2 linked regions of the Homo sapiens genome follow. The protein of the gene in region 1 purifies or fractionates together with the protein of each later gene. This does not show direct contact. Each region holds a gene or a part of one and is shown on either strand. Other genes may lie near its edges. The genes, in order: ABCC5 and SAAL1.

Region 1 (4,410 bases):
TACCAAACACTTATTCTACCAATGATATATTCCATCTCTGCCTTTTTATAATTAACTAATGGGTTAGCTGGTGTTATTTTAAAGCTCCATGAAGTTATCCAGTTAAAACAATGTTATAACTTAACTTCAAACACAAATTCCCTGGGTACTGAAAATGTTCTAAAACTAGATAGTGGTAATGGTTGCACAATGCAGTGAATACATTGAAAAAAAACACACTGAATTTATACTTTAAAAGAGTGAATTTCATGTCATATAAATCCTATGGCAACAAAGCTGTTAGTAAAAAACAATAACAAAAACAAATTCTCCACCCTGTATTACTAAGTCTTACCTAGTTTTTACCTGAAACTCTATTCTAAACCACTGCTTGCCTGGCTAAGTCTAATCAATATGCTGTATCAACTCAGGTCACTTAAAAACAAAAAACACATACATACTTCTCCAAAATGTTTCCCCCCTCTAAGAAGGGTCACAGCCTCCCAGAGACAAGCTGAGAAAACACCTTTCATACTAGCCTCCAACGGAAATTAAAGACGTGTAGCCGTGTCGCCTTCTGGATTCCATAAATCCCTGGCTATCGCTGTGACTTAAAACTACTACTTCTGCAGCACAAAATTCTAACCATTATAATGCAATTTTTAAAGTGTCAGATAAAAAGAGAACACTTACTAATCCTCTGAATAAAAAGGACTAAATCTCCTATGCAAAGACAGGTTTCCAGTCCAAAGAAAGCTTGATTTCTTGCCTTTCAGAATTCTGGTTCAAGTACCCTAAGTTGATATAGCTGTTACTTATCTTTAAAAAAAAAAAAAAAGTCACCTTGTCCAATGACAAACTACACCATAAAGAACAGCGGCTCACCAAGCCAGAGTGCAGCAATCACGTCATTGAGACCTCATTAAGGCTAAACTATAAACAGACCTGGCATCTGCCAGTGTCCCCAGTGTTGAGCTGTAGCTGTAGATCAGAGTAACCTTCTTACGGGAATCACGAAATTCTAACCTTCCCCTTCAAGGGTTCCCTAGCTTAGCTGATTATCTGGAAGAGGAAAAGATTAGTACTACCTTTTTAAAAGGTGGGGGTTGGGGCGGTGAGCAGTTTGAAACAGAGGAGGTCACTGGAACTCATCCACAATATGAAATGCCACATCAAGAAGAACACGAACATAATCTTAATTATCTAAGCACCCATGATAACCAAAGATTCTTTCAACCACTTTTATTTCAAAGGATGAAGTAGAATCAGTGGAGCACAGGAGCAGAGAGAGGCAGGGACAAAACGACTTCCCTGTTATGACACAAATAATGACTGTTTTGTGCCTACAGTGACTGCTGTGGTAGACACTGCTAAACTATCCTAAGGGACTAAGTTATTCTATGTATGAAGGGTGTGGGGAACAGTGTTCCATTATCTCTAACACACTCATCTCTACTTTCCTGGAAAAAGAGGCACAATCAGGAGAGCAGGCAGGCCCAAAGTAGGCACAAAGTTACTGTCTGTGGCCTTGAACATAAGGACACCATCGTCTGTGTATCTGGAACATAAAAGAGGGCACCCCACGTGGAGGCCGGCGAAGAGCTGGGAATCCTGACAGGTTTGGAAAGAAACAAAGCCCCAGTCTGAAGCAAGCAAGCAAGCAAGGATGGATCCCCAGGCCAGCCATTTTACTGATACTATTTATATTTCCCTATCTTCTCGTGTCCTCCTTTAAAGTTGTTGGAATATCTTTTTTAAATGCTCACTTGCCTCAGCTATCAAGAGAGGAAGAAAGAGAAGGGATTTTTGTTTGTAAAAAACAAACCTGTTGTCCAGACATGTACAAGGGTAGAAGCAGAATAATCAACGTGGGAGAACCCCAAAGAAGTGCCCAATAGGGTTGAGGCCACTTAGTCAGCTGCCCTTTTTTACCAAGATTCTCTTTCCACTGATAAAAGTGTAGACACTCTCCCTGCACAATGATACTGATTCAACTGCATGGCAGGAGGAGAGTTGCACGGGATTACCAGACTGGTGTGTGCAAGCTGCAGTCATCCCAACACTCATGAGTAGGTTTCCATCACCTCCAGGCCCTCAAGCTGCACGAGGAAGACACCACGCTAAAGGGATACGTATTTACCACACCCACTGTAATCCACTTGTTGCGTCTCCAAGCAGCCTCACCTTTCATACACGCTGCGGACCACAGTAAAACCTAGCCATCTCCTCCTCCAAGACCTCCTGAAACTTTCCCCGTCGTTCCTGTGCCCACCTGCCTCCAGCCTCTCCGTCTGTGCAGAAACCAAATGGCCCCTGTGTGATAAACACAAAGCCACCCGCGGCTCTGTGTGGCAGAAGCGAAAAGAGCACTGGATGACCGTGGAGAGATCTGGGCTGCGTTCCCGGCACAGCCACGGCTTTGCTGCGCGTGCTTATGTCACGTACCTCCATTTACCCGCTTGCAAAAACGAAGGGGATGACTTACTTCGAAGGTCGCTGGCGGCTCCGCTGCGGGTTGAGCAGGGTGCCCCGAGCCACCCGCTGCACAGCCTCCCAGGTGGGCGTTTCTCTCAGACCCGCTTCGCCTGGGATGCCCGGGCCCTAGGGCGTTCCCACAGCCCGCTCCGGCCTGCCCAGGCGAGCGCGACCCACACCCACGGCCCGCGGGCGCAGCGCCCCCTGGCGGCCGCGGCCAGGGACGTAGCCCGCGTCCCTGCCCGCTCATCCCGATCCTACCTGCCTGTCTTCCAGCACACGACCCCGTCACCAGACCCCGGGCTCACAGGCCTAGGAGGCGGCGGCAGGAGACCAGGGGGAGGCCATACGCCGTTCCCCAAGTCTCCAGTGTCCCCCGAACTGCTCGCAGCCCTGGCCACATCCCGCCACGCCCCGAGGAAATGCAAAGGGGTGATCCCCGTGACAACCGAGCTGGAGGGCAGGGGTGCGGCAGCAGCCATCACCTACCTGCGCCCCTGCTCCAGGACAACCGCGCCAGCCGCTCAACCACGCTCCCGAGCATGAGCCCTGCAGCAAAACAAGCCTTTATAGCGGCATCGGCCGCCACACCGCGCAAGCGCGCTGCACAAAGCATTCCCAAGGCTGAAGGGAACTGTAGTCCTCCTTCCGAGTGCCCAGGGCTGCGGACGCGGCGAAGGACTACATTTCCCAGAAGCGCCGGTGACATCCCGGGGGCGGTGCGGGCTGCCCCTCTTCCCACCGAGCTCCCGGCTCTGTTCCATCCTTCCCCGTGCCTCTGCGAGACTGTCTGGAATCTTCTCAGGGGTCGTGTTCCCTGGGGGAGGCAGCCGGGAGGCTTAACCGTGGCCCTGTGTTCGCACACAGTGCTGTTCGTAGGCAGAGCAGTCCCACCCTGCGTGGCCGTGTAGCTGCCAGAAAAGATCGTGAAGGTCATCGTAGCCCGCGTCTAACCCGTTGAGAGTCGTCAGGCCGGCCAGCCCCAGTTCTTATCTGTTGTGGCAGATACGATTGCTTGCTCATGGTTCGACCCTGCAGTCTGCGCAGATACCGCCTTTCTCACTTTAACACCAACTGCCCATCAATGTCTCGCTGCCTGGTCTCTAGATAATAAAATGCCAGGATCACAGTCTTAGAAGTGGCAAGAGCCTTAGAAATGTTATGCTAACTCATCTTCTTCTTTTTATAAATGAAACTGAAGCTCCCAGAAAGATTGATCCCTTTATTTCTCTGTTTCATCGGTACCTTCAGCATCATTAAATAAAAGCCACTGTTGAGTTCTTCCCTACCTTGTATCCGATGCTTTACATACCATTCTTGTTTCCTTTAATCTCCATTACAGCCCTATGAGTAGGTATTATGAGTTTTTTTTTTTTTTTAAGGAGTCTGGCTCTGTTGCCCAGGCTGGAGTGCAATGGCGCGATCTCGGCTCACTGCAGCGTCCGCCTTCCGGGTTCAAGCAGTTCTCCTTGCCTCAGCCTCCCGAGTAGCTGGGATTACAGGCGTCCGCCACCACGCCCGGCTAATTTTCGTATTTTTTAAGTAGAGACAGGGTTTCGCCATATTGGCCAGGCTGGTCTCGAACTCCCGACCTCAGGTAATCCGCCCGCCTCGGCTTCCCAAAGTGCTGGGATTACAGGCGCGAGCCACCTCACCCCGCCGTATTTTTTTTTAATTCAAAGATTAAAAAAGAAGAAGAAGAAGAGGAAGAGGAAGAAGGAGAAGGTAAAGTGACTTGTCCATCTTTATAACAGCTAGCTAGTTAGCTAGTGTGAAGACACTACTGTATCGTAAAGCAGCATATTCTTGCGCACGGATTGATAGACCAATGCAATAGAATAAAGAGCCCCCAAACAGACTGGTGCATCCATGTAACTTGATCTGTGACAGAAAACCTTACGAATCCGTGGGGAAAGCAAGAAGAGTCAGTAAATAGTACTGGAACAATTGGTTATA
Region 2 (3,816 bases), on another chromosome or scaffold:
GATGAAGTCTAAATCCCCTAAATATGACATAAGAATTTGCATGACATAGCACTCGTGTATTCTCAGCCCACCTTTCTTTGATGTTCCCACCACTTAAAAGTTAAGAAATATCGATGTCCCTTGCTCCAAAAAACAGAAACAACAGCAAAGAATGGGAAAAAAATACATGCGATAAATATGGAAAAGATACATTATTACCCAAGAAATTCATACAAATAATCAAAATGGATAAATTATTAAAAGGTAGGAAACAAATTAACATACGACATCCAAATATTTCAATCTCATTAATTTAAAAATGCAAATCAAAGTAAGACACAATTTATTACCTGAACTTTGACATAAAAATTATAATACCCAATAATAAGCGTCAAGTAAAACCAACATTTTCACATATAAATAGCATTTTGACAAAATATGGCCATCATGACTTAGCCATCTTCACATTTATAATGTTGAATCCAGTAATTTAAATTATATAAAACCTGCTAAGGTAATAACCCCAAATCTGGAAAATACAAATATGGAAAAGGGAAGCAAGACAACTAATAAAAAAAAAATCACCAGAATAAGAGAAACTTTTTGTTTCATTTTGTTTTTTGAGATAGGGTCTCACTCTGTCGCTCAGGTTGGAGTGTAGTGGCACAGTCTGGGCTCACTGCAGCCTCGACCTCCTGGGCTCAAGCAATCCTTCCATCTTTGCCTCCCAAGTAGCTAGGATCACAGGCGTGTGCCACCATGCCCAGCTAATTTTTGTATTTTTTGTAGAGATGAGGTTTTGCCATGTTGCCCAAACTGGTCTCAAACTCCTGGGCTCAAGTGATCCACCTGCCTCAGCCTCCCAAGTGCTGGGATTATAGGCGCCTGGCCAAGAGAAACTTCTTAAGGAATACTCTTTAAAAAATTAAGTGGGTATGAATAAATATATTCTTCACAGCTATATTTATAACATTTTATATTCATAATACAATATATTCATAACATATTCATAATACATTTCTTTCCAAATATATGGATAGAAAAAACATGGTCAAAAGAAGAATATTAATAACCATTGAACATATTCAGGGAGAATGTTCCTTAAAAGAAGTTTGCAGTAAATTTTGAAAACTGATTATTTGGTAAATTAGGTTTAAACTGGCTCTCAGTAAAAAAGTCTTTCATCTAGAATCAAGAAAAATGTTTATAATACAGTGTTAAGGGAAAACAGTAGTCTATAAAAATTGCATATGCTGGGTTAAAGTATATGAAAAATGCATTTATAAAAACACATGCATGCAAACATAGGCATATGTCTGTCACACGTAAATATACCAAACCACATCAGCTAGTTGTTTTTAAGATTATAAACTCATGGTGATATTAAGATTTTACTTTATTTTCCCAAATTATATATTACTTTCATATTTAAAAAAAAATAAAGTTTGAAGCGTTAAGCAACCCACACTTTCTTTTGCTTATGACATCATCAATACTTCTTTCCTACCTTTGTTAATGCCTGAAAAATATTAGAAAGAAATTCACATAAAATATCCTTTAAGATTTTCAAGTGGAAATCATCTTGGGTTAAATCAGTCCTTTTAGTTTCCTCTGTGTTAGACTCTGCCGAGTTCTCTGGTTTTTTCTGACACTGTTCCATATTTTGTAAGACCCGAATGAGGCTGTCAATTAGAGGAAGATCTACTGTATAAACAAATCAAGAAGCATGGAATTGGCCAGTTAAGTTTGGTTTTTCATTCATATGTATTGAATTAGTGCTAGACATTATTATTTTGGGTATTACAGATACACTGGTAACATCAGCAAGATGTCAGCCCATAAGAGGCTTACATTTTTATACTTTCAAATAAGTAAATAAAACAGACTATTTCAGGTTTTGGTTAAGTTCTATGAAGGAAATAAAAGAGGAATATAATATAGCAGCCTAGCAGGGCTAGCTCTCTGACAAGGTAACATTGAGTTGAGAACTAAAGCAATGAAGCATCAGCAATTAAAATACCCTAGGAGGTCAGGGGTGGTAGCTCACGCTTGTAATCTGAGCAGTTTGAGAGGCCAAGATGGGCGGGTAGCTTGAGCCCAGGAGTTCGAGACCAGCCTGAGCAATATGGTGAAACCGTGTCTTTACAAAAAGTACAAAAAAATTAGCTCACAGGATTTTTCTACCACTACCACTGTTACCATCTTGGTCCAAGTTATAACATTTCTTGCTATGAGTCAATTATGAAGAATCTCTAAAAGCCTCCTAACTCATGTCCCTTTTGTACCCATGACTCCCCATATTTCTCATCAAAACAGCAGCCTATTAAAGCCAGCTCATGCGTAGGCAACTTCTGCTTAAAACCCACCATGGTTCCCCACCTCATTCAGAGGAAAAGGCAACATCAGGCCCTCCATACTCTACCTCTCTGGCTCCATGTGCTACTTTGCTAAATCCACCCCAGCCATATGGGATCTCACTGTTCCTCCTCAAAGACACCAGGCATACTTCTGGTTGAAGGCTTTTACACTTTCCATTCCCTCTGTCTGGAATGTTCTTCTCCCCAAGTATGCACATGACTCCCTCCATTCTGTCCCTAAGGACTGTACTCAATGCCACCTTCTCAATGAGGTAACGTATCTACAAATGAAGATCTTAAAAATATTCAACATTCCTTTTTTATTAAAAACTCTTAATAAAATAGAAACAGATTAATATTTCCTTAAATGGTAAGACATATATCTGTTTTTGGAGGGGGGGTGCGGAGTATTGCTCTGCTGCCCAGGCTGGAGTACAATGGCGTGATTTCAGCTCACTGCAGCCTCTGCCTCCCAGGTTCGAGCAACTCTCCTGCCTCAGCCTTCTGAGTAACTGAGATTACAGGCATGCGTCACCAAGCCTGGCTAATTTTTGTATTTTTAGCAGAGACAGGGTTTCACCATGTTAGCCAGACTGACTTTGAACTCCTGACCTCAGGTAATCTGCCCGCCTCAGCCTCCCAAAGTGCTGGGATTATAGGTGTGAGCCACAGCACCTGGCTGTAAAACATATATCTTATACCCAATAATGCTTAACAATGGAACTCTAGGATTATTCCTACTAAAATCAGGAAGAAGGTAAGGATGTTTTCTACCATCACTATTATTTTACACCAGAGACTCTAGGCAACCCAGAAAGACAAGAAGAATAAACCAGAGATAGACAAGTGATAAAATATATCTAACTTAAGCCAAAGCACTATCAGATAAAGCCCAAAGATTATTACTGGAACGACTACTAAAAATATTAAGAATTTGGTAAGGTTACAGGATACAAAGTTAATATACCAAAATCAATAGCCTTCATATATTCCAACAATAATAATCAGTGGAAGAAAATATGTCACAGACAATAGTAAACCCAAAAGATACAATTATCTAGGAATGAAACTAATAAGAAATATCCAAGATCCATATGAAGAAACCATTACTGAGGGACACAAAAAAGACCTGAACAAATAAAAGGGCATAACATATCCTATCAAGTTAACACGATGTCAACAAAAATGTCAGAAATTTTTTGTTTTTGGAACTCAAAGTTAGTGATAAAAATAGTTAAAAACATTCTGAAAACTTAGAATGAAGAGGAATTTGCCTTATTAGGTATTAAAACATAAAACCTTAATATTTAAAAACACTATGGCTACTAATATATGAATACAGCAATGGAACTGAACAGAATATATAGGGGAATTTTAAAAATAATGATGAAATTTCAAATCAGTGTGGGTAAGCTGGATTATTCACTAAATGATGTTGAGATAACTGGGTAGCCCTCTGGGAAAAAACTGATACCACTAG

What was found.
Region 2: the proteins of ABCC5 (region 1) and SAAL1 purify together in Homo sapiens (co-immunoprecipitation; one large-scale study listed by IntAct). This does not show direct contact.

What each region holds. Positions count from the first base shown.
Region 1 is NC_000003.12:184,014,887-184,019,296, forward strand, and holds the start of ABCC5 (ATP-binding cassette sub-family C member 5), read right to left. Parts: upstream 2,999-4,410; 5' UTR 2,944-2,998; exon of another isoform or gene 2,164-2,943; intron 2,079-2,163; exon of another isoform or gene 673-2,078; intron 1-672. UniProt on the Homo sapiens protein: ATP-dependent transporter of the ATP-binding cassette (ABC) family that actively extrudes physiological compounds, and xenobiotics from cells.
Region 2 is NC_000011.10:18,082,049-18,085,864, forward strand, and holds part of SAAL1 (protein SAAL1), read right to left. Parts: intron 1,684-3,816; coding exon 1,487-1,683; intron 1-1,486. UniProt on the Homo sapiens protein: Plays a role in promoting the proliferation of synovial fibroblasts in response to pro-inflammatory stimuli.